Linked DNA regions of Homo sapiens: all the other regions are linked to region 1. Evidence: fine-mapped QTL for protein levels in blood plasma. A gene starts in region 1. Each other region holds a variant in brackets. All regions are shown on one strand. Distances are between the middles of the regions.

Region 1 (8,090 bases):
CTGCCTGTATGACTGAATAAAATCACTTCACCTCTCTGAGCCTCATTTTCCCCATCTATAAAATGAAGATGTTGGACTAGAATGGATCTTGCCATTTACATCAGATTCCCTTGAGAGTCCTATAAAAGTACCATTCCCAGACTTCACCTTCAGAAAGTTCTATTCGGTAAGATTTTAGAGGAGCTCAGAAATCTTCCTGTTTAACAAGGGCCCAGGGGATGTGGATGTTGGAGATGAACACAAACTACAAAATAAGGTACGCTGAAGCTAGATCCCCTTCCCATCCTACCATTCTAATAGCCTATGGAAATTTGAGTAAAAATAACAATTATGGCTGGGCACGGTGGCTCACACCTGTAATCCCAGCACTTTGGGAGGCCAAGGCAGGTCATGAGGTCAAGAGATTGAGACCATCCTGGCCAACATGGTGAAACCCCGTCTCTCCTAAAAATACAAAAATTAGCTGGGCATGGTGGCGTGCGTGCCTGTAGTCCCAACTACTCGGGAGGCTGAGGCAGGAGATTTGCTTGAACCCGGGAGGCAGAGGTTGCAGTGAGCTGAGATTGCACCACTGCACTCCAGCCTGGCATCAGAGCGAGACTGTCGAACAAAAAAAAAAACATGATGATATCTTTATCGTAGAAACTTATATGTAGTGATAACCCATTTCAAGTAATCATTTTATCATAATATAAACTGCTCCCTGTAGTGTTTATACTTTTTGTTGATAAAACATCTAACTGTGAATGAAGGAATTCCCAAATCAATTATAAAAGAAAGAAAAGAAGGAAGGAAGGGAGGAAACAGGGAAAGGAAGGTATTGATAGATAGGCACATACATAAAACACAAACTCTTAGGCTATCAAGTGCTTTTATACCCAAAATAATCATCAGCATTTTGCAAGTAGAAAATTCTTAAACATTACATTACTTTGGTATTTCAATGAAAGATAAGAATTGAACACGCATGAAAGAAGCTTTGTAAGCCTGCAGTTTAATTGTAGATCACTTGCCCTGTTCCCCTATTATTTTGAGACTTTTTACATAGAATTATCAGTTACAGTAATTTATTAAGGTGGGTTTTTAAAATTATTTAAGGTACTGATATGGTTTGGCTGTGTCCCCATCCAAATCTCATCTTGAATTGTAGTTCCCATAATTCCCACGTTTTGTGGGAGGGACCTGGTGAGAGATAATAGAATCATGGGGTGGTTTCCCCCATACTGTTCTCGTGGTAGTAAGTCTCATGATGAGATCTGTTAATTTTATAAGGGGTTTCCCCTTTCACTTGGTTCTCATTCTCTCTTGTCTGCCGCCATGTAAGACATGGCTTTCACCTTCTGCCATAATTGTGAGGCCTCCCAGCCATGTGGAACTGTGAGTCCATTAAACCTCTCTTTTTTTTTTTTTTTTAAATAAATTTCCCAGTCTTGGGTATGTTTTTATTAGCAGTGTGAGAACAGACTAATACAGGTGCTTTGCATATTAACACTGAAAATTGATCAAGAAGTTGGATGTTTAATTTAATATAGGTATTATGGTCCATCTGTGTCCTTGAACTCTACTTTAGCCAAACCACATACTTAAAAACCATAGAGAAACACAACTTGATGAAGCCAGGTAAGCTGTGATCTACATCACCACTGCAGCTCAAGAATGAATTTGGCTAATGGCCATAGCAAAGATAACAAATCAACAATTTCATTGGAATTCAATACACCCCAATGTTGCAATATAAATCAAAGCAGATCCATTCAGAACCTTCAGTAAATCATATGACATTTGAATTCCAAGCAACTGGAACTTTACAGCAGGGATCCAGGTTTAGTCAAAATTGTTATACAATGTTTATTTATATTCAAGTATAGGAGTTACCTGAAATTGAGTGATTATATTTTTTAAAATTGTAACCAGAACATCAGTTCATTAATTTGACAGTTGTCTTTCCATGCTGCAAATAATAACCAGCGTTCATCATTTAGCAGTCATGTACAGCGCTCCCTACATATTAGTATTTTTATTGAAAAATACATTAAACAGTTCAATATATTCAAATTAAGGCAAATAAATTTTCCAGTTCTAATTGTGCCATTCTCTAACCTCGGTCAACTAGACCTATATATGAAAAGCTAAAGGATCAGCATACTGAATTTATTATTCTGAAGCAACGATGTGTAGCAAAAAAAAATAAGCTTGCTTTTGCCTCCTTTCAAAATATTAATAAAGTGACACTGACCCCACTCCTGTACTTGTGTTGCTGTGGTGATGCCCACGGTGGAAGAAAAATTTGGTGATAATTATGCTTTCAATATTGGCATGGTTTCCTGAGATTCCCGCAAAGTGATGCTTTCAAGATGCTGCATATAATTCTTCCACCTCAGAGACACTTCAGGCTATTCTTCTAAGAGAACTTCAGGTGTATTTAGGTAATCTAAAACTCATAAAACTTGAGGCTCATTTTCTTTTCAATTTGCTTAGGAATATAGTGAGACCAAAGGCAGATGCAAAAGTTACTTAATATATGTCCTGGGGCCGTTACATCTGACTAAGAGGTTACCTGACCTACCATAATCAGGTGAAGAGGGTTGTATTCCAAATGTCATTGTACTGTCACTTAAGAAACTGCCTGGGAGATGAAAAATAGAAGGGGACAAAAATAATTGATATCACATCTGAGTAATAAGTCATCAGGATTCAAGGTAAAAAACATCCATTCTCCTCACATTGATTTGCAATGATGGTTGAATGCGGCATCCAGTTATTACTGGAAATGATTTTATTTACATTCTAGATCTTACTTGCCTCATTTCTAAACCTACAATTTTGAAACTCTGCTTCATTTTGTGCAAATCACAACTTCAGGTAGATCTGGGGTATGTCATCCTTGCCATTTTGTTCATATTAATAGACTAGTCCTCTTCACAAATGATGACATTTTTAAAAATCAGAACTACTTAGTGCAAATCCTGAGTAGCTGCTCCTCTGACCGTAACTCTTTAGAACTGGGCATCTTCTATGCAGACATTTTTGAATTTTCCAGCAGAGTCAGCATTAAACTCTCTACCACAGCACATACTTTACCATATATTTATACTAGCCAAACATAAATACATAAATAAAATCAACAGAACTTATTACAGAGGCTCAACTGCATTATACCATTCCAATAAAGTGCAATGTCAAACCTAATAAATTTGGCTTCCTCCTGAACACATTAGGTTGTAACTCCAAACCAAAATATGACTTCCAGCTGCAGCAAAATTCATAAGATAGAATGTGTCAGGATAGATGAAATACCTACTAATGCTGTCCTGAGCCTTATCTGTTAAATTTGTGGCTTTTGCCATGTATATGTGCTCCCAAGTCTAGTAAGCTTAAATGTGGTTCTTACTGATAAATCACTGGACTCAGTCAAAAAAGAGGGAGAGCCAGAGCCCTTAGAGAACAGGTATCATTAATAAGTGGCACTTGGTGTAATTGATGGGGGCACCATAAGTCTTTCTATAACTTTGTAAGACATGCAGTTGTCTTTTCCTTCTATTTCTGTACTTCCCCTCTTGATCTACTGCCTCTTTTCTCCTTTCTATCCCATTTTCCTTCCTTTCCTGCCCATTCCAGCGTGGCAGTGTTATTCAAACTGTAAGAGGCAATCTACAGTCACTCCTGAGTTCAGTTTAGTGGGCCACAGCCAAGCATTTAAAAAATCGACTACAATAGAATAATATTTCATTATATATTGTTATATTACTTATTACATTTATATAATTACACGTATGTATATATAGTATACATATGCACATTACACACACACACAAAAGCCAGTGACGCTGCTAATCCTTCTACATTGCATAGGGCAGCCCCCACAACAAATAATCATTTGACCAAATATATCAACAGTGTTGAGTTTGAGCCCTGATGTATACATATATGTAACTATTTGAAAACATCTGTAAAATGAAAGATGGAATTTTTTTGAAGTTATTTTAAATGTTTGACATTACATGGCTCCAACTAGAATCATAAATATTTTTTCTAATGCTAATTCTGTTATCCAACTTAAATTAAGATGTTGGTTTCTGACTAAAATCAACCATTTCACCAAGAATGGGAGTAAGGGTAAGTTACTTAAATTTTCTGAGTCTCACTTTCCTCTTTTGTAAAGTCTGGCTAATCATACTGGCCTGTTGAGGATTGTCATGAGAAACATAGAAAACAGATATAAAATATTTTGTATAACTTATTTATTTTAAGAAGTGAGTTAAAAATTTTTTTAGTTTAAGATTTATTTGCACATACATGTACCACCGTTCAATTTTCAAGAGTTCTGTATACATCCCATCCTTACTGACTCCACATAGCAGGTGCCAGTTTTACACATGGGGAACTGAAATTGGTGTAATGCTGTTTTTGTCCCATTGTGAGAAAGTAGCACGGGTGGAATTTGAACCCAGGTCATTGGGCTCCAAGGGCTTGGATATGTATTTGATTAAAAGAAAAACTGCCCTGGGTCTTGGCCCAGCACTATTTCAATCAGGCCAAAATGCCTGCCAAATAATCCAAATAATTGAATTGAATTGAAAAATATCCACCTTTTCAATAACATCAGGAACAAAAGTCTACAATATCCTGTAAACTATAATTACTAATATTAAGGGCATGTCCGCTTTGTTGCGTTTCTTTATTTAGGAATTTGTTCTGTGGCACTCTTCTTTGAAACCTTTGGTTGGAAAGAAACTATGTTCACTGAAAATGCAGCACATTTTGTCTTCTTTTATATGTTTTAAAGCTTTCTAGTTCTGGATAGGTGTGAAGAAGTTGAAAAAGCAACATTCTCAGGTAAATTACGTACTACACAGTAATAGGACATCCTTTACATCATCCTGGAAACATATGCGCTTTTTATCTCACTCATCGCAGGTGAAATTTCTGGTTTTCTTCTAACCTTAGAATGAAATTATAAAAACCCAGGCAAGATTTAGTTTTATTTCTCTGTTTTTCCACTAGTTTTCCAATCGGGATCTCTATGTTGTTTAGTAACACGAACTTCACAATAGAAAGTAGCTTACAGTAAACCAAACCCCCACCACATGCAATTTACCTATATAACAAACTTGCACACGTACACCTGAACCTAAAATAAAAGTTTTTCAAAAAGAAAACAGCACATGGATATAAAGATACATTTACAGTGCTAGTATAAAGAAGAATAATGTGATTTTTATTAATGAACAGAAGTACATTAATATGGTGTCTCTAGTATTCAATTCTATTTGGAAATTTTCCTCTAACACAGAAGCTTTTAGAAAATTCAGCATAAAGCAGCTTTCAAATAAATTGGCATATTTAAATTTTTCACAGACTTCAAACTCTCCTCCATTATAACTGTCTATGCAAAACCCTCTCAGAAAGTTTTATATTGCTCATCAATTTTCGTGTCTGTGCATTCAAAGCACAGCTATCCACCTACTTGAAAATTTTATGCTGACAAAAAGAAAAGTCTGCTCTTTTTAATTTTGTCTTACTATCAGTGTGGTCCCATGTGGAAAGGCAGGCTGCTAAATGCTTTTCGAAGGCTGGTGAACAGGTTAGACTTGCTTACAAGGCTAATTAAAATTGATGCATGCCATCTATTACATGTTACTACTGGATCTAAATAAAGTATCACTTTTCATCATTAATGCCATGTTCCTTCTCTACTCTGTATAGAAGTTTTTGCTTATTTTGTATGTTCCCTTTGGCTACAGACACATCACCCTTCTTAGTAAACTGTCTGAGTTTTTCAGCATGACTGTCTCATTATTTCTGTATTGGAATGGCCTCTTAGCTCTGTGTTTTGCAGTTGTTTATAACATCTACTAAAAGCGACATGAAAAGATGACACAGTCAGAAATACGGTAAAGACAGAAGTAACAGTATTAACTGACCTCATTTAGTTAATAATATGATGTGCTCAGTGCACTGCTTTTAGTCTGTAGCAAACAGCACATTGGATGTTTACACTAATACAGATATTGTAAAAAGAAGAGCAATGCTTCTGGATATATAACCGTACATACACTGCCCACGTGCTTATGTGAGAACTATGTTATTCCGAAGTTGCTTATCTGAATGGTAGGAAGATTTCAAAAAGGCTTTCTCAAGAATGAAATAAAAGGAACAGTAATGACCCTTACAACTCCGAAGATACGATTATAATTCTTCCGACTATTATTAAAGCAAACTCTGTACATCTTCATAATATAAGATTGCCAGTAGTTTTCTTTTTAAAAAGCCCAGCATAATCTCCTTAGAAAACCATTATGAAAGAAAGCCAAGAAGAGAGGACAGGAGAAGCACAAAAGATTCCCACGGGAAGGACAAGAAAAAGGTGGTTGTCAGTGCTGTGAGAACGAGTTGAAAGGCATGGGAAATATGGAAACAGACAAATTCCAATGCAGATCCACTAGCTGGAGAGGTAATTTTGCGTCTAATTTTGCACCTCTCTCCTCGCCTCCCCGTCTGCTCTCCACCATCACGCTTTTCGACAGTAAGAAGGATTTGGGGTTTTGCAGACTCTAGCGGGCATGAAAAGGATAGGGGGTGGCAACGACTTGAATTAATGACGTTCTCCTACAGGATGGAGGGGAAAATGACTTAGTGTCATCAAATGAACTCCCTACTCCTGGCATAAATTTATCAAACTGCAACTTTATCTCGAATACTCTGGAAGAGTAGAGGAGAGGCCCTAGAGAAAGCAAGTCTTGAGGGGAAACGCAATGCTCTTGGCAAAAACCGCACCTCCCTCTTGAACTACACTGACTCTTTTCACAGAGCGCCTTCCTTTAATAGAATCACAACCACCTGGACTACTAATAAGAGGAAGAAGAAAGGAGAAAAGGGAAGGGAGGATGGCAAAAATCACGCTCTAGAAGATCCAGGCAACGTCGTCGTGAAGAATAAAGGGAATCAAAATGGGCACTGGAACGCTGCTAAGGGCTTGCTTTGTTAACACACTTGCACAACTCAAGTTCAGCTCTATCTTATGTTGAAAGTCCTTGTTTACGATCCTCGTAGGAGGTTCTTAAATATCTGCCTGCGAACTCCCAAAGACTGGGCGCTTACTAGTTAGGGGAGGCAGCTGTCCCGGAGGGTGTCCAGCTCGGATGGCTGACTGCTCTTTCACTTGTCGTTAACTTCCACCCAGTAGTCTTAGTCTCCCCTTGGACATGGTACCGACCGTGTGCCATTCTTATTTCACTTGACCGAGCCCGAGCTGCAGCCCAGGGTGGAAGCCGCAAGGGCTGGGCAGAGTTCCAGGCAAGAGGGACCGAGAGGCGTGAGCAGTGCTCCGCAGCGCTTGTCAGAGAAATGGAGCAGCGGCTCCTTTGTGGGCTCTTACATCCCCGTCCTGGGTGCACAGCCCGGATATTTGATCTGTGGGGTGATTGATAAGTGAGGGAGAGGGGGGACGCGATCCCTCCCTCCCTCCTCCCTCCCTCCTCCCTCCTCACTCCCTCCTCCCTCCTCCCTCCCTCCTCCCTCCTCCCTCCCTTCTTCCCCTCTCCTCCCTCCCGCTTTACTTCCCTCCTCCCTCTCGCCTCCCTCCCTCCTTCCTGCAAGAAGCGTTGCCCGTTGGCTAGCTGCTCGGTGGGGATCTGCCTGCCCTGGGGGCGCCGCCCGCGCTCCCCGCGGTGCTCTCGCTCCTGGGCTGCGCCAGTCCGAGGCGGTGCCGGCTCCTTTGCCTCCCCGAGTCGCAGATGCTGCGGGCGCCTCCGGGAAAAGATCTGGGCGGCGCGCTCGCTCGGTAAGTTCTGAGCACTCAGGGACGCGGTGGCGACGCGGCCAGTGAGCCGGCTTTCCTCAGTCCGTTGCCTTTCCCGGCCACCTCTCCTTGCGAGGGGCACCAGCGTGGGGAGGCTGGGCGCCATCCGCGGAGGGCAGCTCGCTGGCGGCCGCCCTCTACCCTCAATCCCCACTGGAGATTCCTCACCCCGGGACCGTCCGCGCGGGCGTGGTCGGGCTCCGCGCCTCGCGCAGCGGGGTGGCACAGGCGGCCAGGGAGGGCCCACGCACCCGGCGCGAGCTAGAAGCCTCCGGTCGGCCTGCAGTGC
Region 2 (8,112 bases), 400 kb before region 1:
CCGAGTCACCCCTAATTATTCCCTACTCTATGTATCAACGTTTCCCTTCTCACTGTGGACCCTACCTATCATGATTATCTATCTTTATACTAATCCCAAAGTCATTTTTTTCCATGAATATAAATTATAAACCTCCACAAGACCGAATATTTGAAGAAGATGAAGTACATTTTCTAATTCATCTATCTCCCCATAGTACGTAGCATTAGGCTTTACATAAAATAACTCAACAAATGCTGATGACTGTCAGCCCATGTATAATCACAGCATATTGTGAAATAATGCATTCTCTAGGCCAATTTTCTCTAGCATATACTTAGCCTCTTAGTTTTAGGAGGGTAAATATAAATTACTCAGGTCACTGAGATGCTTCTGAAAAAGCATCCTTTATAGTCAGTTAATTATCACCTTAATAATAGTTTGCAATTATTAGACTGTGTCCAGAATTTAAAAATGACAAATTAGAACATATGAAGTCTTGTTGCGCTGATTTCCCCCCTTCAGGTTGATCAGCTTATAAAGCTAACTATAAATTAGGTACTTTTCTCTTTGAAAGAAGCCTATGTCCAAGGAGAGTTCAGTGGATCTGTGCCTAATTTGAAACTGATCCAACAATAAAACACAAAGATAAGCAGAGACTGAAAACAATTCAACCAAATACATTGCTTTGTGTTAATCACTTTCCATTTTTAAATAATCCAGGAGGAATAATGGTAACATTACCTTGATATTATTACTTGTATTATATATCAAATATCAGACAATCTAAAGTACAGAAACTATGCCACTATTAAGCTCTAGTTGCTTTTTTCTTTCTTTTTTGAGGAAAGTAAACTATTCTTTATTTAAGAAGTGATTCATCAGCCAGTATTTTTCTTAGCACTCAATCACGTCTAATTTTACTTTCTTATCCAGGCATTTTCCCCTAAGGCTGGTGATTCTTTCAATAACAAGAGTTTAATGTTCAAGATAAAAAAACAGGGATATTAGTAAAGGCTTCTAAAGAGTGAGATTTATTTTTATCCTTGTACTTGGAATACTGTTATTATGATGATTTGACTTTTTCAATAACTTATTTATTCTTTTCACTGAAGTCAGCATTATCCCACCTATTCACTCTCAAATAATTATGTATACATGGAACTGTGGACATGCACATTTTAGTATATGTTTGGGATAATTGCTGTGTTTGAATTGGTTGAGAATCAGACCACTAAGATCTGAATTAACGCTATTTGACATAGAAACCAGATGGAGGAATGGGCAAAGGTTATGTGTAATGACCCCACTATATAGGAGACAAATTATCTTTTGCCAAGATGTACTCTCAGTTCTCACTAGGGAATCTTATTCACTTCTGTATCTTCATGTGCCATCTGAGCCCTGTCCATCTGTGATTTACCTTCAGGCCAAAAATCACTTGTGTTTTTGATCCTAATGAAAAATAACACTCAAAACATATAGATTATTGCTTCCTCTAGCCCATATTTTCATACTAAGTCTATTTTGTGTCAGTAGTCTACTCTGTAGCACTTTGAATTAGAAAAGAATAAAGAATCCATCCAAACATTTCCCGACCAAGAAGAAACCATTGCCTTCATGGCAGATAATATTTAGCATTACATGACTTGCAGTGACACTGAGGTATATCATGCATGATCCCTACTTGCTCACAAACATGGCACATAAAGGCATCCATATGGACCATGACTAATTGGCATGAATTCTAAACTGTTGTGTGTAGCCAACTGAAAAGGAAAACAATAGACAGTGAAAACGATTATGAAAGTTAAAAGTCCCATTATAAATGCAATACTGGTATTGTATTTACTGATGTACCGATCAAATATAACTATTTGTAAGACATAAGATACTTAACATCCAGTAGGTATTCGGTACTTATAGAAAGTTTCTGCTTCTACAATTAACCAGATTTATGGTGCATTATTATTATTATTATTATTATTACTATTGTTATATTTTAGTGCCATATATTGGTTCATCACAAAGCATTGGTCAAATCCTGGGCAGGGAACTGGTTTACTCATGTTACCCTAGTGAGCACTATTTTATGCGCATCCCTTTTGAAGCCATGTTATCAAAGAGGACAGCTTTCCCACATGATGAAGGAATATTCCTTAATAAATAGTATACAAATAGCTATACTCTCCAACTAGAGTCACATTTAGTAAACATTACTAGAGTTCTTCAAACGAAACTTACTAGGTAATCTCAGTTCCTTACAGAGGGTTGATCACATCCCAAGTGAAGTGTAGTCATCAGGTAATCCTACCACTTTTCACCACCTCTATTCTTACGGCTTGATTCCAAAAAAGTCATCTCTTCTCACCTAGATTATCACAATAGTCTCCTAACTCATTTCAGAAACTTTTTCAATAGTCTCTTTCAGTCTATTATCAATATAACAACCTGCATCATTACCCTGCTCAAAATTTTGTAATAGCTTCTGCTCTTACTCAGAATATAATACAAATCCATACATTGTCCATGAAGGCCCAACTTAACTTACTGCTCCCTCATTTTCTTACTGACTTTAACTGCTACTCTACCTCTCATTCACCTTGCCACAGACATACTGCCCGCTTGTTATTCCTGGAAATTACTGTAATTTTGCCTCAATTTTTGTGCACTGTTTCCTTTGCATGAAATGTTCCTCCCTTAAATGTATACAAGACTCCATACCTCACTTCTTTCAAGTCTTTACTCAAATTTCAGTTTTTCAGAAAGGCTGTTCATGGCCAACCTAACTAAAATGCAACTACTCATTCATATCCCATTTTTCCACTTTTTTCTGATCACTTATTGTGTATTATACTATATATACTTACTAATTTTTATCTTTCACTTTCTACATCTTCCATTGCAATTTAAGATTCACAAGTACAATTCTTATATATTTTATTTATAACTAACTCCCTAGTTAGTGCCTAGAATATTGACTGGTCTGTAAGAGTATAGAAAGACACTAATCCAAGCATGTTTTGGCATGTTTTGTAGGTAAAAATAAAGTAGAAAAAGTTTTAAATGTAAAGTTGAAGTGATTCTTTATTTTATTTTACCATATAGATTACCTTAAGCCAGCAAAAACGACATACATTCAACCAGCTATTATGCCTGATAATGCTATTGTTCCTTCTTACCCATATCGTCATTCACTTATGCCTCTAGTGAAGTATTCCTCAAAGTAATACAAAACAGAAAATGTGTGTGTTCTCAGCTCATCAATTAAAAACAGTCATGCTTGGTGCAGTGGCTCATGTCTGCAATCTCAACACTTGGGGAGGTTGAGGTGGGAAGGATTCCTTGAGCCCAGGAATTAAAAACCAACCTGGTCAACACAGTCAGACACCATCTCTACAAAAATAAAATAATTTTTTAAAAGCCTGGTATGGTGGCATGTACCTATAGTCCCAGCTACTTGGGAGGCTAAGATAGGAAAATCACTTGAGCCCGGGAGGTGGAGGCTGTGGTGAGCCATGATTGTATGACTGTACTCCAGCCTGGATGACAGAGCCTGTCTCAAATAAAAGTCATATAATAAAACAAACTTGGCTTATTCAAAATAGCCTTATTATGGATGGATAGTAGGGAGGTGGTAGGGAGTGCAAGCCTAGAGAGATCTTTTACTAGGCTGTCATCACTGAAAAAATTATGGTAAATGGAAAATCATGGAGAATCATTGATTTAATTCAGTGTTTTATTGTGTTTCAGCCAATGGAAATAGAGAAACAGATTCTTATCACAAAGAAAATTTTAATAACTTTATAGTTTTTGAGAATCAAATTACTTATTAGACTAACTACAGTATGATTTGCATATTTTTCCATTTATACTGTTAGTGGACCAATATTTGTACAAATAAATTGACCCTCCTAAGGTAGAAATTGTTAAAATTTAGAGCTCTGTATTAAAGTTATTGAAAATATTGAAAAGTGGCCCTGTTGAATTGCCTAGTTAATGTAAAAATGAACATTCTATACAAACAAGAAAAGAAGTCAGATATTGTGCTTTGTTGACTTTCAGAATCAAATTAATCTCTTAGTAGTGGGGATTTGGTATAACATAAAAGTTTATTCTGCCTTTTGACATGTTGATACAGAGGTTTTACTATCAGGTTCCAAGAAATTTGTCAAGCTCCAGCATATTTGCCCCCCTTTCCTATATCATGCAGAGAGAGAAAAATGGAACTGCTAGCCAAAAAGCATTCATACATTCTCTTAAATTGTTCTACATGGCCACTTTTTCAGGAACAGGAAACCTGAAAAAAATAGTGCAGTATAACTGGAAAGTCTTCAGATTTAATGGAAATTTTCTTTGTTCTTATAGTGAGTGATATGGTTTGGTTGTGTCCCCACCCATGAGAATCTCACTTTGAATTGTAATAATCTCCACCTGTCAAGGGTGGGGCCAAGTGGAGATAATTCAATCATATGGGCTGTTTTCCCCATACTGTTTTCATGATAGTGAAAAACAGTCTCATGAGCTCTGATGGTTTTATAAAGGGGAGCTCTCTTGCCTGCCACTATGTAAGACATTCCTTTGCCTCTCTTTTGCCTTCCACCATAATTGTGAGGCCTCCCTAGCCATGTGGAACTGTGAGTCCATTAAACCTCTTTCCTTTATAAATTGCCCAGTCTCAGTTATGTCTCTATTAGCAGCCTGAGAACAGACTAATACAATGAGTCTGGTTTAAAATTAGGCACATAGACAAATAGCTTTCAGATTGTGAGCTATTCAAGGACAACTTATAAATCCAATCAATATACATGCCCACAAAGGTCAGAATTTAAAACTTCTTGATTTAGGGGTTTGAGTGTGCAATTATTGAAAGTGCAGTGAACCCCTTGGTGTGGAAATACTTTCTTTTCATTCAGATAGCAAACCATAAGAGATAATAATAGCTTGAAATCAAAGGGGGAATTCCTCAAAGGAAAATGATCATGCACTGGGTGAGTTTAATCTCTCTGTGATATGAGTTCACCAGGAATTTGTAGAGCTAGGTGATATGCATTAAGTATTTTAAATAGCTCTAAAGTGTTTGTTTTGTCTCATCATTTAAATCTAGCTACTTCCAAAGAGGAACAGAGAGAAAATATTCCATTTTAATAATACACATACAGAACACATGTCTTAGGATAAATATCAGATGAAAGTTTGGAGGCTATAGAAAGAAAAGGGAGAGATAATAATGTGTAGGGTTATGGATAATTTTTACTGTGTAATATGCAGATATAATATTTTTAAAGCCATTTCTTTTATTTATCCTGGATAAAAGCACATGTCATAGAAAGGAGTGGTGGCTGTTTGAGGAGCAGGTCAGGGGTAGATAAAGTAGAGAAGTCAAATATGTTCCCTCATTTCTTGGGCTGCCTTTTCATTACGTTGATTTTTTTCCTTTTCTGTGCAGAATCATTTTAGTTTAATGTAGCCCTACTTGTTTATTTTTGCTTTGGTTTCCTATGCTTTTGGTATCTTCCAAAAATTTATTGTCAAGACCAGTGTTCAAGGAGCTTTATCCCTATGTTTTCTTCTAGGAGTTTTAAGGTTTCAGATCTTACATTTAGGTCTTTAATCAAATTTGAGTTAATTTTTTATATGGTTTAGGAGGAGGGTCTGATTTAATTCTTCTCCACGGGTAGGTCTCATTTTCTAATACAGTTTATTGAAAAAACCATCCTTTCTCCATTGTGTATTCTTGGCACTCCTATCAAAGATTGGTTGACTATATATGTATGGATTTATTTATGGGGGTTATATTGTGTTCCATTGATCTATGTGTTAGTTTTTATACCAGTGCCACACTGTTTTGATTATTATGGCTTTGTAATATAGTTTGAAATAAGGACATGTGATGCCTCCATTTTAGTTTTCCTTTCTAAAGATTGCTTTAGCTATTTGGGGTCCCTTGTGGTTGCATATGAATTTTGGGATTTTTTTTCTATTTCTATGGAAAATACCACTGGAATTTTGGTAGGGATTGCACTGAATCTGTAGATCTCTTTGAGTTGTGTGGATATTTTAATAATATTAAGTCTTCCAACCTATGAACATGGGGTGTCTTTCCATTTATTTGTATCATCTTCAATTTCTTTCACTAATGTTGTACAGTTTTCAGTGTACAGATCTTTCACACCATTGATCAAATTTATTCCTAATTATTCTATTATTTTCATGCTATTGTAAATGGAATTATATTTTTAACAGTTTTCATAGTTCATTGTTCGTGTATAAAAACACAACTTACTTTTGTATTGTGATTTTGTATCCTGAAACTTTAGTGAATTAATTTCCTAGTTCTAACAGTTTTAGGTAGAGTCTTTAGGGTTTTCTACA[C/T]ATAAGATTATGATATCTGCAACAGAGACAATTTAACTTCTTTCTTTTCTATTTTGGTGCCATTTTTGTTTAATTGCTGTGGCTGGGACTTCTAGTACTATGTTGAATAGAAGTAGCAAAAGTGGTTCAGAGATAGATTTTTAACATCTATATGTGATATTTATTCACAGGAACAATAGCATATTCATCTCTCCTAAATTCAGACACTGGACTTCTTAGTGTTGGCTATAGAAAGATATTATTGTTGACTATATTTAAAATAGAATTTATCAATAAATACCTAAAATGTATTAACATTTTGTTAATTGCTATTAAGAGCTGCTGAAATGCCATAACTTATATTGTGTCTAGCTGTTTTCAACGTAATTTTGCTTTAATTATATTTTTTTAATTGTTCAGACAATTGTGGTAATAGCATGTGTGTAATTTTATTTACTGTATTTTTCACATAACATGCATTCCTTATAGTTTTAAATATTCTATATGAATTAATTTAATAGCTACAAAATATTCTGAAATTTATCTTAGCTATTTTCCAGTTGTTAAAAACTTGGATTTTTTCCTCATATTCTTGAATATAATATTTCTGTAATGAAGATATTTACGTTTAAAGTTTTGTTCCATATTTGGGAATACTTTCTTAGTATAAATACATAGAATTAAAACGAATGGATTTGCAACTTCAGGTCTTGTGGAAAGCGTATGCCAAGAAGGAGTTAGAAATGCAAGAGATTTATTGAGAAAAATACTTGTGAAATCATAGAGGGCACAGAAGTAGGCAGGGAGAGATCCAGATCACAATGTACATAAGACACTTGTGAAAGAGAGGAAAAGAAAAGTAATTATTATGAAAGATTCTCAAACTGTCATGAAGCTTGGAGAAAGTCTTCACTAGCCCAAAAGAAAGGAGCTCTGGTTATTGTACATTAAGTGTCCCATGTTCTGCAGAAATGCCTAAGCTTTGGTAGCCCTACCATGCTCAGTCAGCTGCCAGGGAAGAGCATGGCTTTGGAGGAAATGTTGCAACAAATAATGAAGGTACTGTATCTAGTGAGTGTCAGCTAATTGCATTCCTCCAGCTGAGCTGCAAGTGATTTCTTGACTCTCCACAGCTATTCCAGCAAATATGGACATTTTTAACAATAATGTAGTATCAAGTTATTTTCTGAAAGGTCTATAAAAATTTACACTCTACTACCCATGTTCTGTCACCAGCTTTTACTGCCATTATTGGTAGTAATTATTAGAACTTTGAAAGTTAAAATTGCTATTCAACTGTTACTTTCGTTTGTATTTTTTGATTAGTAATGATGTGATTTTTCCCATTGGTTTGTTAACCAGTTATTGTTCCTTTCTGTTAATTTATTCCTAACGGAGACTGAATATTATTATATATTTATATATGGTACAAATAGTTTTCTTATTGTTTGCTTTTACTTTTTAATTATTTTAATTCGTTAAAGCTATACCTTTTAATTTTTAGCGATTTTTGCCTGTCACATTAATATGTGAAAATACTCCATAGATTTGAAAACCATTTCTTTATCTTTTTTCTATTTATTAAATTCTTATGTCAGAATGCTATATAAGAATTTATATTGATGTGCTATGACAATGTAAATTTAATGTATCCTAAATTGACAATGTTCTTAATATCAATTACTGAATAAACTTTACTTTCTCTACTGATTTTTTATAATAGCATCAATAATTTTAGATTCCCATGAAAATCCATTATCCATATCTTGAAACCACAAT
Region 3 (8,112 bases), 390 kb before region 1:
CAGTGCGAACCCAGGGCAGCCATTCCTTACTGCTCTTCACAGGTAACCCAGCATAGGACAGCCAAAATCTTCAGGCAGTGGTCACAAGTTGAAAGACGCCCCCAGATGGGGTTTCCTGATATAACCATGGGTGGGGACGAACTCCTTCAGCCAGGGCCAAGGTAAGGGAGAGTGAAAAGTGGGCTGTGAATGCAGGTGTCGTGAGTGCAGGAACCACAGGTGCAATAGCCTAGTGCTTGGCTTTGCAGTGGGTGGGGAGGGGAGTGGTCTGAAGACCAAGGCTGCTGTCTCCATGGGGAAAGCCTATGGCTCCAGGGAGTTGCGAGTTCTGATTACAGGCTGGCTGGAATTCAACTCGCTGCTGTTAGTGAAACACTGTAGGAGTGAATCTGCCTTAGCAAGGGCATTGGGAATGGTGTGGGGCTTACCACCTGCTACTCCTCACTCCCTGCACAAACACTTCTGTGCAGCAGAGACAGCAACGCTCCCCAGTGGACTATAACCAGTGGTCTGAGGCACATTCCCATCCCTCGACGCTGACAGAGGCTGCTACTTGTCCTGCACATGAAGCCAAGAGTGCAAACCTGCCTGACCCAGCCCCTACCTGGCTTTGCCCCTTCACTCACCCTGGTGGCTTAACGAAAAGGACAGAATCTCTTGGGAGCTACACGGTCCCACCCGATGCCTGAGAAACCAGAGTATCATCCCTGGGCAACAGAAGACAAGTAAAAATCCCACTGCTACTACCACAGCTGGTGCTCCTTTGCAAGTGCTACTTTCTGGCTGGAGGCCAACCAATACAGTCCATTACAGCATCTCCTGGTAGAATAACACTGCACCCAGGAAGGAGAAAATGGCTGTGTGATAGCTATCACCCCTTCCTGCACCATGCTGACTAACTTGCTATTGGTCTGCCAAGGCAAGACTAAGCAAAAAGAACAAATCTGGAGGCATCACATTACCTGACTTCAAACTATACTCTAAGGCTATAGTCACCAAAATAGCATGGTATTTGTTTTTAAAAAAGGCACATAGACCAATGGAACAGAATAGAGAACCCTGAAATGAAGCCAAATACTTACAGCCAACTGATATTTGACAAACCATGCAAAAACATAAAGTGGGGAAAGGACACCCTATTCAACAAATGGTGCTGTGATAATTGGCAAGCCACATGTAGGAGAATGAAAGTGGATCCTCATCTCTCACGTTATACAAAAATCAACTAGATTAATCAGACTTAAATCTAAGATCAAAAATCATAAACATTCTAGAAGAAAACCTTGGATAAACTCTTTGGAACATTGGCCTAGGCAAATAATTCATGACTAAGGCCCCAAAAGCAACTGCAACAAAAACAAAAATAAATAAATGGGACTTAATTAAACTAAAAAGTTTCTACACAGCAAAAGAAATAATCAGCAGAGTCAACAGACTCCCAAAGAATGAGAGAAAATATTTACAAACTGTACATCTGAAAGAAGACTAGAATCCAGAATCTACAAGAAACTCAAACAAATCATCAAGACAAAAACAAATAACCCTATCCAATAGTGGGCAAGGGACATGAATAGACATTTCCCTAAAGGAGATATACAAATGGCCAACAAACATATGAAAAAATGCTCAACATTACAAATCATTGGGAAAATGCAAATTGAAACCACAAGGAGACACCACCTTACTCCTACAAGAATGGGCACTATTAAAAATTCATAAAACACTAGATGTTGGCTCGGATGTGGGAAAAATGGAATGCTTATACACTGCTTGTTTGAATGCAAATTTGTACAACTTCTATGCAAAACAGTATGTAGATCCCTTAAAGAGC[G/A]AAAAGTAGATTTACCATTTGTATTACTCAGGGCTCTCTGGAAGGACAGAACTAATGGAGTTTATTAAGTATTAACTCACAGGATCACAATGTCTCACAATAAGCCCTCTGCAGGCTAAAAAAAGGAGAGCCAGTCCAAGTTCCAAAACTGAAGAACTTGGAGTCGGAAGTTCGAGGGCAGGAAGCACCCAGCATGGGAGAAAGATGTAAGCTGGGAGGCTAGGCCAGTCTCTCTTTTCACATTTTTCTGCCTGCTTTATATTCTAACCATGTTGGTAGCTGATTAGATGGTGCCCACCCAGATTAAGGGTGGGTTTGCCTTTCCCAGCCCACTGACTCAAATGTTAATCTCCTATGGCAACACTCTCATTGACACACCCAGGATCAATACCTTGTATCCTTCAATCCAATCAAGTTGACACTTGGTATTAATCACCACACCATTTGATTGAGCAATCCCACTACCTGGTACCTACCCAAAGGAAAATAAGTCATTATGTGAAAAAGACACCTGTGCATTTATGTTTATAGCAGCAAAATTCTCAATTACAAAGATGTGGAAGCAACCTAAATGCCCACCGACTAATGAGTAGACAAAGAAAATACTATTCCATGGTATACCATGGAATGCTATTCAGCCATAAAAAGGAACAAAATAATGTGTTTGCAGCAACTTGGATGGAGCTGTATGCCACTCTTCTCAGCGAAGTAACACAGGGATGGAAAACAAAATAAACACATGTTCTCACTTTTAAGCAGGAGCTAAGCTATGAGTAGGCAAAGGCATATAGAGTGATATAATGGACTTTAGAGACTCAGAAGTGGGAGAGTGGGAGAGGGGCTACGGATTTTTTAAAAAGTACACATTAGGTATAATGTACACTACTAGGGTGATTGGTGCACAAAATTTTCCTAATTCACCACTATAGAATTCATCCATGAAACAAAAAACCACTTGTACCCCAAAAGCTACTTAAATAAAAATTAATTTTAAAGACATGGATACTTATAAATGTCTTCAAAGTATCTATATATTCTATCCCTAGGCCATCCAAATGCTTCCCTGTCTCCACAGTACCATCTTGCATTTTTTATTATCATTCACTTGTTGTTTTTAAAAGGGACAACTGTTTCTCATTACTTGAAGTCTCTGAGTTTGACAGTTTACATACTAGCTAAAGTTTATTTTTAATGACTTCAATACTTCAGCATTTATTTTCAGACAAATGCAGAGTGGGAAAAATTTTGATTTTCCTGATATATATGTTTCCAGTTGAGGTCCAACAATGCAATGCTCTACTGGCTTGTTTCAGCTGTTACACCAAAAATAGTGTGTCATGTGTGTGTGTGTGTGTGTGGTCTATTTAGTTCCATTTCTTTTGCATTTCCATTGACCCTGGGTGTGTCAGTGAGAGTGTTGCCATAGGAGATGTCCAAAACAGTTTAAGTAATATTTTCCATGTGTGATGAAACTGAAAAAGTGACTAAATTTGTGGATTTATGAGATGATGTCTGATTTTTAAAAAATGTATAGTACACAGCAATTTATTGTTATATTAACCTGGGTCAAGAATAGCTGAAACTCTTCTCAACTATTGTTTCATTATAAAGAATTCCTGCATATAATTTGTTATTTGGAAGAAATATGCACTAAATAAGGTATCTTTAAACATAAACACACATAAAACGATGCTATGTATTGATCAATGGATGGAAATACTGTGGCCACATGCTTGCAGGATACTAATTCTGTAATTTCCCTAGGAGCAATGACTTGGTATTTGCTAACTGACTGTTTCCAGTGACTTTATATAACATAATCCCCACGTGCCAAGGGAGGGACATGATGGGAGGCGATTGGATCATGGGGGCAGTTTTCCCCATGATATTCTTGTGATAGTGAGTAAGTCTCATGAAATCTGATCGTTTTAAAAGTGACTCTTCCCCCTTCACCCCTCACTCTTCTCTCTCCTGCTGCCTTGTTTCCCCTTTGCCTTCCACTATGATTGTAAGTTTCCTGAGGCCTCCCCAGCCATTCAGAACTGTGAGTCAATTAAACCTCTTTCCTTTATAAAGTACCCAGTCTCAGGGAAGTTCTTTATAATGATGTGAAAATGGACTAATACAACCATTATAGTGATACGGATTACTTTACTCATGTAGACATATGCACATGTATGGTGTGTGTGTGTGTGTGTGTGCATGTCTGTGTGTATAAATATCTATATTTTAAAAATTATGTGCAGTGATCATACAAGTACTTTATAATCAGAAAAAAAATTATTACAAATATTTGAGAACTGTTTTCCACCTGTTTATTTGCTTTGACCTTTTTGGTGTGGTCTGATTTATAAGAAGGATTTTTTAGGGAAATCCTGTTTTCTTTCATATGGGGTCAGGGAGGTCAGTAAAATTGTCACGAGTGAATTTACTATAGATGTTATTAAACTAAGTGTATTTTATAAATTATATGTGTAAGCACATAGATAGATAAAAGCAAGCTAATGAATTTGAATTGAGCATTTCACATTCTGGGCCATTCTGGGTGTCATCTATGAGAATACAGCGGTATAGTGTCCTGCACAAAACCAACTTCTGAGCTAGAGAGATGAGATGGTAAGTAGAATTATAAATGCGAAGATCCATTTGACAGACTAGGATTTGAATGAAGCTTATTATAGTATAAAATGAAATGTAAACTAGTAATAGCACAATAAGACATAAGACTGCTAAGAACTTTGTGATATGAGTTTGAGCATACACACTAGTATTAAAGATTAGACTGGAGTTAACTTTATTCTCTTGGTACATTTATATAATTACAGGAAGTCATGCATCCTCATTCACTCACTGTATCCATTTATCACATGAATATGCTTTACAAATATTACTGCTAAGACAAAGGAAAACTACACGATGAAAACATCTTTATTTTTCCTCTTCTCTTTAGGGTCTAACGTTCTGCAAATAGTAAAGTCTATTTTGCTATGTTTAGAAAAATGCCCAGCATGCTATAGAGGAGGGGTCTTCAAACATTTGGATGAGATTACAGTGCTACAGGAAAGAGAGTTAAATCTTCAGAGGGTTTATTCCTCTTGGGGAAATTTCTTTCCCTACTGATAGTCCACTATTTGTGAGAGTATCCTGACAAAATCAAGATTTATTAATTCTTCATCTGGTGTCCTGCAAAACTCACTAGGCGCCTAAGGTGTATACTCAAAACACTTTATCGGTTCCTTGTTTACACATTTCTATGTGATTTCTTAACCAGAGAAGCTATTTTGAACTGCATATTTCTTACTAGGACTCCACTAATACCTCCCTCCACCCATATGGATAGCCATATAGTTATTTGGCCACCACGCTGCCTATCATTCATTGGAGTTGATAAGAGAAGAATAAAAGTCAGGAAGTCAAGGAAGTGTTGGCTCTACATTAATTTTAAGACAGTGGTTTTCATTTTGGAGGGAGGAGTCCAAAGATTCCATTGAGTATCTGATGAAAGCAGTGGACCCTTTCCCTTAAAGGTTCTGAATACATATATGCCACGATTCACGTAAAAACTGAAAGTATTTTTTAAAATGTTATAAAACTTGCACATGGATTTTTTAAAAATATACATATTCCAGGTCTAAAACTTTCACTTAAGAGTAATTCAAGGCCTTTCCTCTCATTCTGTTGCAGAGAGAAGTCAGCTCTGCTATCATTGAATTCACTTTGATAAACTGGACTGCGGAGATAGAGAGTTGGGCTTTCATCATAAATGAACTTAGAGCAGCAATATCCTTATATAAAATACAAGAATGGTACCTGAAGGATAGGGGCCCATAAGGCCACTGGATACGTCCTCCAGTTCAGTCAAGTTATCCTGCTTCTTAAATGGGTTTATCCCATTTCTTCAGGGCCTATGGTTGCATGGCTAAATTCCTAAATAATATACATTTATCTAGTGTATCCTGTGTTGATTCACCAATATATATGGGATGGCAGTAAATTGTTAGAGTAGTAATGAGGGTTTTCACATGTGACCCCACTACATCTTTCTTTACTGTAGGCAAAATTAACACCAGTCAACTAGGAAGAAGAGAGTATGATGACAGCAAGCTGAGCTTTTAAATCTACAAGAAGATTCTTTCTTGTACAGCTTCTGGAGATATGATTGCTATGGAGCCAATTTGTACATGTGAACTAAGATGTGAGTGTCTGCCAACATATTCTGGATTCGAGAGACTGAAATATGCCCCCATGCTAATGAGGTACGGACTCTGATTTGTATTTAAATGATGTAATTTTGGAGTCAAATGCCTTTGCCTGAGTGAAAGGAATATAGGTTTTGAAGTCAGACACAGCAAAGTCTGAATTCTAGCTCAGGCACTTCCTATGACCTTGTTTATATTGTTCTTATTCTATGAGTCTGTTTTCTAATCTGTAAAAAGAGTATAAATACTATTTACCTCAGGCACACTGCAAAAATTCTAAATAGTTTAAAATTCCTGATCTTAGCTCTCAGTAATTAGGAACCATATCTGATTATCACCCCGGGGCCAAAGCTTGTGTGCCAGTGTGATTCATCAAGGTAATTATTAAAACTATCAAACAAATTTCGGCATTTCTTGATACCAGGATAAGAAGCCCATGCTTTTTTCCATAAACAATGGGGAGTCATTGAAGATCTATCTCTCCTAATTTTTATATGAATGAAAACAAAAAAATAAGCTAATAAGAAATAATGAAAAGTTATTTCTATATCACTGCAAATTCAGATTCATTGAATTATCTTCTGCAGGCCTCAAAACGCAGTCATTTTTCAAGTGAATGATTTAACATTGCAATGACATTGCACTCTGTTGTTGGTAGTGTTTTCATTATTAGAGGAGCACGTTGTGGACAATTAGCCTGCACTTCAATGATGACATTTGTTCAAAAATTGCCAGGATCACTCATGAAGGCTTGAATTGCACTATTTGAAGAAAAGTGAAGGACTAAAAAAGGTGAGGTTAACATAAGTCATATTTACTTTTATCGTAGGAGTTATAATTGCTGAAAGCCTTCCTAGTTGGCCCAAATGGGGAAACTGAGTCCCCAGTAAGAGAAGAGAGTTGCCTTTAATTGCATAGTAAGATAGAAACAGATTTTGAAGTGGAACAGGAGCACGAATTTTATTTCTAATACTGAGAAGTATGAATGAAACCTTTGTGGGTGGCAGGTCTTTATTCAACAGCTACGTGATCTCCTACTATGGGTGGTGTCAGTAATTCAATGAGTATGTAAGTCTCCATGATTTACCAGGCACTATACTAGGTGAACACATCAGAAAAACCTACAACCCTCATGGGGCTTATAGACTAGAAAACTCAGACAGCAACATATACACACTTGTTATCTAATAATAATTCTGTAACTCTGATACAGGAGATGCACAGGCCTAAGAAAGTATATAAAATGGGGAGATTATATAGTTAAAGAGATCAGTACATATTACTGCAGTCCCAAACAAGTTTTTAAATTATTTTAGAGGCTGCTCTATCCATGAAAATAACTATAAAGGCTATACGAGTCTTTATGTATCAAGTAACTCACAGTTTATTCGCATCCTTTCAAAAACCATGATCTTAGAGTAAGGTCCAACCGATATGTTGTCTAACTCGACTTTATATTTTCATTACAAAATTTCTTACTACATAAGTGCAAAAATTATCCTCAGATTTCAGTTTGTGTTTCACTGGTTTGGAGCTATTACCTTCACCAGGGGGTGATTTGGGCAGGTCTAACGACTAGGGGTCCCCTTGGGACAGGGCCCCAGTAAGAGGACCTTTAACCTATGTCTGTGGCTGTACAGTCAGCCGATACACAAAATAATGTTTAGAATTTGAGTTGGGCCTGGAAAAGCAGTAAGATTTTGGATAGAGTTGGATGTGAGAAGAACCTCAGTTATTCCAATCAGCAAAAGCAGAGAGGGGGATGTGTAGGAGGCTAATTTAGTTAGAGAATAGCAACTGAATCAGTTGGGCTGGGACATTGAGTATGTGAAGGATATAAATAGAAGATAAGATTAGAGCAGCGGCACCACAAAGAAATAATCAATGCTTAAAGTGATATATTTGAAGTGAAATTGTTTGAGTCTCAACCACCAGGCTAAGGAATTTTAATTTTATCATGTTAACAATCGGGAGTCTTTGAAGCTTTTTAAGAAAAAAATATAAACAGAGGAAGCAGTGTTTAGGAAGCCTTTTAAATATACAATAGACAGTTGAAAGGGAAAAAAAAGTGGAGCCTGATAG
Region 4 (8,112 bases), 1.2 Mb after region 1:
GTCAGCTTTGTCAAAGATCAGATGGTCATAGATAAGAAGCCTTATTTCTGGGCCCTCTATTCTGTTCCATTGGCCTATGTGCCTATTTTTGTACCAGCACCATGCTGTTTTGGTCACTTTAGCCTTATAGTATAGTTTGAAGTAGGGTAATGTGACTCTTCCAGCTTTCTTCTTTTTGCTAAGGATAGCGTTGGCTATTCCGGCTCTTTTTAGGTTCCAAATAAAATTATTTTTTTTTCTAGTTCTGTGAAGAATGTCATTGGTAGTGTGATAGGAATACTATTGAATCTGTAAATGGCTTTGAGCAGTGTAACCATTTTAATGTTATGGATTCTTTCTATTCATGAGCATGAGATTTTTTTTCCATTTCTTTGTGTCTTCTCTGATATATTTGAGCAGTGTTTTGTATTCTCATTGTAGAGCTCTTTCACCTCCTTTGTTAGCTGTATTCCTAGGTATTTTATTCTCTTTGTGGCAATTGTGAATGGGATTACCTTTCTGATTTGGCTCTCTGTTTTGTTGTTGGTGATGTATAGGAATGCTAGCAGTTTTTGTACATTAATTTTGTACCCTGAAACCTTGCTGAAGTTGTTTATCAGCTGTAAGAAGCTTTGGGGCCGATACTATGGTGTTTTGTAGACATAGAACCATGTCATCTGCAAACAGAGGTAGTTTGACTTCCTCTCTTCCTGTTTGGATGCCTTTATTTCTCTATCTTGCCTGATTCCTCTGGCTAGGACTTCTAATACCATTTGAATGGAAGTGGTGAGAGTGGGCATCCTTGTCTTGCGCTGGTTTTCAAGGGGAATGCTTCCAGCTTTTTTTCATTCAGTGTGATGTTGGCTGTGGGTTCGTCATAAATGGCTCTTATTATTTTGAGGTATGTTCCTTTAATATCTAGCTTGTTGAGAGTGTTTAATATGAAGAGATGTTAAATTTTATCAAAAGCCTTTTCTACGTTTATTGAGATAATCAGGTAGTTTTCATCTTTAATTCTGTTTATGTGATGAATCACATTTATTGATTTGTGTGTGTAGAGCCAACTTTGCATCCCATGAATGAAGGCTGTTTGATTGTGGTGGATTAGCTTTTTGATGTGCTGCCAGATTCAGTTTTCCAGTATTTTGTTGAGAATTTTTGCACCAATGTCCATCAAGGATATTGGCCTGAAGTTTTCTTCTTTTGTTGTATCTCTGTCAGGTTTTGATATCAGGATGATGCTGGCCTCAGAATGAGTTAGGGAGGAGTCCCTTCTTTTCAGTGTTTTGAAATAGTTTCAGTAGAAATGGTACCTGTTCTTCTTTGCACCTCTTGTAGAATTCAGCTGTGAATCCTTCTGGCCCTGGTTTTTTTCTTTTTTTTTTTTTTTTTTTTTTTTAGGCTATTTATTATGACCTCAATTTCAGAGCTGGTTAGTCTGTGCAGAGTTTCCATTGCTCCCTGGTTCAGTCTTGGGAGGATGTATGTGTCCAGAAATTTATACATGTCTTTTAGATTTTGTTAGTTTATGTGCGTAGAGGTGTTTATAATATTCTCTGATAATTGTTTGTATTACTGTGAGGTCAGCGGTAATATCCCCCTTATTATTTCTGATTGTGCTTATTTAAACCTTCTCTCTTTTCTTTTTTATTAGTCTAGCTTGTGGTCTCTCTATTTTATTAGCTTTTTGAAAAACCAACTCCTGGATTCATTGATCTTTTGAATGTTTTTTTGGATCTCTATCTCCAGGTCAGCTCTGATTTTTGTAATTTTTTGGTCTTCTGCCAGCTTTGGGATTTGTTTGCCTTGGTTCTCTAGTTCTTTTAGTTGTGATGTTAGATTGTTAACTTGACATCTTTCAGGCTTTTTGATGTGGGCATTTAGTGCTATAAATTTCCCACTTAACACTGCCTTAGGTATGTCTCAGAGATTCTGGTATGTTGTATCTTTGTTCTCATTAGTTTTAAATAACCTCTTGATTTCTGCCTTAGTTTTATTATAAACCCACAAGTCATTCAGTCATTATTCAATTTCCATGTAATCGTATGTTTTTGAGTGAATTTCTTAGTCTTAAGTTCTAATTTGATTGTGCTGGGGTCCAAGAGACTGTTAGGATTTCAGTTCTTTTGCATTTTCTGAGTAGTGTTTTACTTCTGATTATGTGACCAATTTTAGAGTAAAAGTGCCATGTGGTGATGAAAAGAATGTATATTCTGATGTTTTGGGGTGGAGAGTTCTGTAGATATCTATCAGGACCATTTAATTTAGAGCTGAGTTCAGGTCCTGAATATCTTTGTTAATTTTATGTCTCAGTGATCTGTCTAATATTGTCAGTGGAGTGTTAAAGTCTCCCACTATTATTGTTTGGGGGTCTCAGTGACTTTGAAAGTCTCTAGAAACTTTCTTTATGAATCCGGGTGCTCCTGTGTGCGGTGCATATATATTTAGGATAGTTAGCTCTTCTTGTTGAATTGATCCCTTTACCATTATGTACTGTCCTCCTTTGTCTTCTTTTTCCTTGTTGGTTTAAAGTCTGTTTTGTGACAAACTAGGATTGCAATCCCTGCTTTTTTCTGTTTTCCCTTTGCTTGGTACATTTTCCTCCATCCCTTTATGTTGAGCCTATGTATGTCATTGCATGTGAGATGGGTCTCGTGCAGAGAGTGTACCAGTGTGTCTTGGTTCTTTATCCAGCTTGTCACTCTGTGTGTCTTTTAATTGGCGCATTCAGCCCAGTTACATTTAAAGTTAGTATTGATATGTGTGGATTTGATCCTGTCGTCATGATGCTAGCTGGTTATTTTGTTGACTTGTTTATGGGATTGCTTCACAGTGTCACTATTCTGTGTAATAAAATGTCTTTTTGTGGTGGCTGGTAGTGTTTTTTTTTCTTTCAATATTTAGTGCTTACTTCAGGAGCTCTTGTAAGGCAAGTCTAGAGGTAACAACTTTTCTCAGCATTTGCTTGTCTGAAAAAGATCTTATTTCTCCTCCCCTTATGAAGCTTAGTTTGGCCAGATATGAAACTCTGGGTTGGAATTGCTTTTTTTTTTTTTTAAAGAATGTTAAATATTAGTCCCCAATCTCTTCTGGCTTGCAGGATTTCTGCTGAGAGGTCTGTTGTTAGTCTGATGCCCTTTGTAGGTTACCTGGCCTTTCCTTATGGCCACCCTTAACATTTTTTCTTTCGTTTCAACCTTGGAGAATCTGTTGATTATGTGTCTTGTGGATGATCTTCTCACAAAGTATCTTATGGGGTTCTCTGCATTTCCTGAATTTGAATGTTGACCTGTCTAACAAGGTTGGGAAGTTCTCATGGATTATTAATTTTTAAGTCATACACTTATACAACATTGTTAATTGCATTGTATTAATTAAAATAACTATAAACACTTATTTAATAACTGTGTATCTTTAAAAATTTAGTGGTTGCCTTAAGCTTTGCAATGTGCATCTCTAATTGATCACCATCTACCTTCAAATAATACAGCATCACTTCATGTAATGTGTAAAAACTTCATTATCATTTCAATTTCTATCTCTTCTCTTTTACTATTGTTGTCACACATTTTGCTCAGATATATGTTATAAACCTACAACATAATTGATACTACTTTGTGCTTTAGAAAGTCAATTTTCTTTTAGAGTCATTATAAATTAGAAGTTAAAAAACCAAAATCTTCTATATCTACTTTTATTTTAGCCATTTTTGGATATCTTCAATTTTTTGTGTGGATTCATGTTTCTGAATAGTATTATATTTTTTCAGCCTGAAACACTTTTTAAAAGGGGTATTCTGGTTCAGCTCTGCTGGCAATGATACCTTTAGCTTTAGTTTGTCAGAAATCATGCGACCACATGTTTGAAAATTATTGTCACTGAATATAGACTTTTGGATTGGCC[G/A]TTTATTTTTGTTCAGTACATTAAAGGTATTGCTGCATTGTCTTCTAGCTTACATAATTTCTGAGAAAACTTTGCTGTAATTCTTGTCTCTTTTTTCTTTTGGTACAGTAGAATTATTTTGTGCTTAAAAAAGAGAGCTGTCTTAATGTTCTTACTTCATCCTCAGGTTTCAGTGTTCCCTCTACATCTGCACCATGGAGGAGGTCTCTTTCCATTGTCTTACCCCTTACCCAGCAGTAAACTGTTGTTTCTTGTAATTTTGTGCTTGTAAGTTAGGTAGTGAAGTCCGGGAGAATCTCTTTTAGATGGCAAAGCCCCATTCTTTCACAGGCATTTGTCATTCTCTGTGGTCTTTCTCTTCCACTGTCTTTCCACCTCAAACTATACCTTTTATCTTTGGTGACTCTTGTAGAGCCAAGGGCTTCTTGCCCCATCACTGCAGCAGAACATACTTGTCTAGGCTCATGACTGATTTCTGGTAGTCTTCTAGGGACAGAGAGATTTTTTTAAATCTTTTTTTTAACCTTTCCCAGCTACAGTGATTCTTCACTCCTGCCCTTGGAAGAATTAGACTTACTGCCCCTACCAAGGATATTTACAGATGATATGTTTTTCTGTAGGGCATAAGGATTAGAGAGGAGCTTCATACTTTTTACACAACAATGGCATCTATATTCTTTCAGGCTTGTACCACCAAGAAAAGCTTTCTTCAATCTCCTGCTTTTTTTTCCCAATCTTTAACAACCAGGTGGAAGTTGGTGGAGAAGATCCTGTCTGTGGTAGCAGCCCTTTTGTGTCCGAGGCTCACAGGAGTTCTGTACCTGCACACTAGCCTACACTCTTCTTTTAGCAATGTGTTACAATCTTTAACTGACTTCTTCTTTCCTACTTGTATACACTTGATGTTTCTTTATTCTGCCAGTGGGTGAGCCAGTGTTCATGTCCTATCTCTGATTTCTTTTGTCATTGCTTCATCATTGATGTATTCAATAAATGTTATAATTTCATAGCTTTGTTGTTGTAAGAATTTTGTTTTGTTTTGTTTTGCTTTGCTTGTTATAGTGATTTTCTTTGGGAGAAGTGACACTTTCTTTTCTTTTTAGATTCATGAATTATCAGGAAAGGAGAGGACCTCTAATTACACTTTGAGAAGATGCTTCTATCCCTCATTACGCTTTGAAATTGAAGAATTTAGATATATTTAAGTCTATTTCACTCTTTTTAACTGATAGATGAATAAACTGTTCTCTTTATCAATGATCCCTCTTGGAGACCATTTGGTATTTCTGCTTTTTGGTTATTAATAACAATGCTTCAATAAATGCCTTTGCACATGTCTCCTTGTAAACATATGTAAGGATTTCCCTGATGCAGCTAAAACCTAGAAGTAGTTTTATTGGGGAGAAAGGTTTTACATTTATATTATCAACATTTTAAGGTACTACCCATTTGCTATTCAGACTGGTTTGATTGGTTTACACTTCTGCCTATAATAAATGTTTATTATTTATTATTTATGATTACTGTTTATCCATCTACTGGCTGGCATGTGATGTCATCACACAATTTCTGCAAACACAATGGATGTGAAATTGTATCTGAGTTGCTTAATTTGTGTTTTCCTGACTACTAGTAATGTTGAGCATCTTTTACGTTTTTTATGTACTTTATTTTTTACATTAAATAAATTTTGACAAAGAATTTGTGTCCGAATGCTAAGTGTTAGAAAATGAATTAAGTATTGGGAATAAAAAAAATCAAGAAAATGGATAATATCCCTGTCCTTACAGAGATTACATTGGCCATATATTTTCTTCTTATGGATCTTATCTGCATATTTATGGCCCATTTTTCTACCACATTGTTTATCTTTATAAAAAATGAGCTATAATAATTTTATATCATGGATATTACTTTTGTGCATTATATCTATTATAAATATCTTCTTCCCCCATAACTACTATTTTATTTTAAAATATTTTTTTATCCTGGAAATTATTTATTTAAATGCATTTAATTTTATCAATATTGTCATTCAAGTTTCGTGTCTCTTTCATCTAATTTAAGAAATTATTTACTATTTCATTGTAATAAACATATTCTTTTATTTTTTAATTATAAAGCTTTACATAAAACTGTGATTTACACGTGTGTATGGTATGAGGGAGGTATTTTATTTTGTTACTCTCTATATACATTTTTTTCATTCATTTAGAAAATATTCAACCAGGATTTCTCTCTTCTCTCAGAAATACTTAAGAGAAAAATTATCTACCTTAATTTAGCTTATGGTCTGGAGTAGGAGACAGCCAATAAAAATAATATGTAATAAGATGTAGATAAGTGGTAAGTTCTATGAAAGTGATGCAAGGTAAGGAAGGTATAAAGTGAAGGTGAGTGGGCCCTACTTTATATAGAAGAACTGTCTTTGAAATGATGACTTTTGAGCAATGACACAATAGACCTGAGGGAGTGATCCATGCAGATACTTGGGAAAATGCCTTGCAGGTTGAGATAGCAAAGAGTGCAAAATTCCCAAGGCAGGAGTTCCTAGGAGAATGAGGAATCCACAGTACCAGAATCAGAGTTAACTTGGGGAAGAGAATTAGAAATGTGATACGAATGGGGGACGATATTGTGCAGGGATTTGTAAGCGATCATATGTTTGGCTTTTACTCTATAGTGTATAAAAAGGCATTAGGAGGGGATTGAACAGAAAACTGAAAGGACTTAACATTTTAACAGGATTGTAGGCAATAGGCTTCAGACCGTAAAAAAAAAAAAGACAAAGGTAAAATCAGAGAGATCAGTTAGAATGTAGTTCTCTAGGGAGTAATCTAGAGGAGGGAGAATTATGGTTTGGATCAAGATAGTATCAATAAGAATGAAGAGAATAATTCAGATTGGGTAAAGTCAGCAGTAAGGATAGTGAGAAGTGCCCAGATGCTGGATATATTGTGAAAATAGCACTTAGATAATTTGCTGTTGGATTAGATGTGAGATGAGAGTTAAGAGTCAAGGATGATTCCAAGGTGTTTTCATCTGAGCAATTGGGTGAATGACAGTGCCATATAATGAAATGGGGAAGACTGCAGAGGAGTGAGTATGGTAAGGGAAAAGATCAGGAAATACTTATTAGACATTCCAATGGTGATGACAAGTAAACAGCTATATATATATATATAATCTAGAATTCAGGAAGGAGGCACAGGCCACAGAAAAATGGGAGTGTATGTTGCTTTCATTTTTATTTGTTTTTTTATATTATTGTGCTTTTTCACAATTTGATTTTGTTGGTCTTTTTCAATTAAATCTTATTCATTTTGGAAGCACAATTCAAGTATTCTTCATTCTGTAAATCCTTCCTTGAGTTCCCTTAGCTGAGCTGATTATTATCCTCTGTTTCTCTATCCTTTTATATATTTCTTTATCCTAGTGCTATTATTTTTTTCTATCTCTCCTTTTCTGTCTCACAAGCCAGATAATGCTCTCATTGAAGGCAGGCAGTTTGCCTGATTTGTATTAGTACTTTCAACAACTCACACACACACTCTCTCTCTCTCTCTCTCTCTCTCTCTCTGGATTGACACATAGTAGGTACTTAGTAAATATTTGTTGAAAGAGCTGTATATGCTGTCAGAGGATCAGAAAGAGGAGCCTACTTCTTATCTCTTCTTTGTCCTTTTAGTAACTTTCTTCATGTTTTGTACATGACAGAAACATTCCACTGGCTAGTTGGAAGAACATAATTGTGTTTGTTCTATTTTAATTAAATCTTGTTACAAAATATATGTGACATAAATGGAGTTATCTCTTTTGCAAATGGGTGATATAATGGGTTTGCATCCCATTAAGCTTTATAAAATGTTGTTACGTCATACAGTGTGACAAGCAAGAACAGCTCATAGCTTAAAAACTGGAATCATTTGAATTGCCTTTATTCAGGATTGTGGAATTTTTATCATAAGATCACAGTAGGCTAAGTGCTTTACCTTAGGGTAACTGAAATGTGATCCCCACTGTGGGAATTTGTGCCTCAAAGAATGGCATCTTTCCATTTGTGTACAACTGTGAATGACGATTTTTGTGTCTCTCTCTTTCAAAATACAGTTTTATGCTAAAATTTAAATGCTGCTTTTCAAGATAAATTTGTATAAACTTTCTGCTGGGATTCAGAATTTCTGGTGCTAGTCTCAGTATGGTTTGTGTAACTAAATGTAAACTACTCTT

Alleles and levels. Positions count from the first base shown, and alleles are read on the strand shown. Strength reflects both the effect of a copy and how common the allele is.
With allele T in place of C in region 2, the plasma level of the protein whose gene starts at base 7,586 in region 1 is higher (weak association).
As copies of A replace G in region 3, the plasma level of the protein whose gene starts at base 7,586 in region 1 goes up (weak association).
With allele G in place of A in region 4, the plasma level of the protein whose gene starts at base 7,586 in region 1 is lower (moderate association).

What was found. A credible set is the group of variants that fine-mapping cannot tell apart. PIP is the chance, under the fine-mapping model, that this variant and not a neighbour inherited with it causes the effect. Protein levels are from antibody-based Olink assays in UK Biobank. Linkage for the fine-mapping came from a reference panel and not from the study's own genotypes, which makes the PIPs less certain.
Region 2: its variant is the best candidate, but not a certain one, in a credible set for the plasma level of the SLITRK2 protein (UK Biobank, PIP 0.67).
Region 3: its variant is the best candidate, but not a certain one, in a credible set for the plasma level of the SLITRK2 protein (UK Biobank, PIP 0.81).
Region 4: its variant is the best candidate, but not a certain one, in a credible set for the plasma level of the SLITRK2 protein (UK Biobank, PIP 0.85).

Annotation. Positions count from the first base shown.
Region 1 is chrX:145,810,244-145,818,333 of GRCh38, forward strand. SLITRK2 (SLIT and NTRK like family member 2) reads left to right here and starts at 7,586. Exons shown (of 5, transcript NM_032539.5): 1 at 7,586-7,783.
Region 2 is chrX:145,414,031-145,422,142 of GRCh38, forward strand. No RefSeq gene overlaps it. Among named protein-coding and RNA genes, the nearest start is that of SPANXN1, 170 kb to the left of the region's middle. The variant C/T (reference allele first, on the strand shown) is at 6,355.
Region 3 is chrX:145,423,013-145,431,124 of GRCh38, forward strand. No RefSeq gene overlaps it. Among named protein-coding and RNA genes, the nearest start is that of SPANXN1, 180 kb to the left of the region's middle. The variant G/A (reference allele first, on the strand shown) is at 1,832.
Region 4 is chrX:146,978,728-146,986,839 of GRCh38, forward strand. No RefSeq gene overlaps it. Among named protein-coding and RNA genes, the nearest start is that of CXorf51A, 170 kb to the left of the region's middle. The variant G/A (reference allele first, on the strand shown) is at 3,883.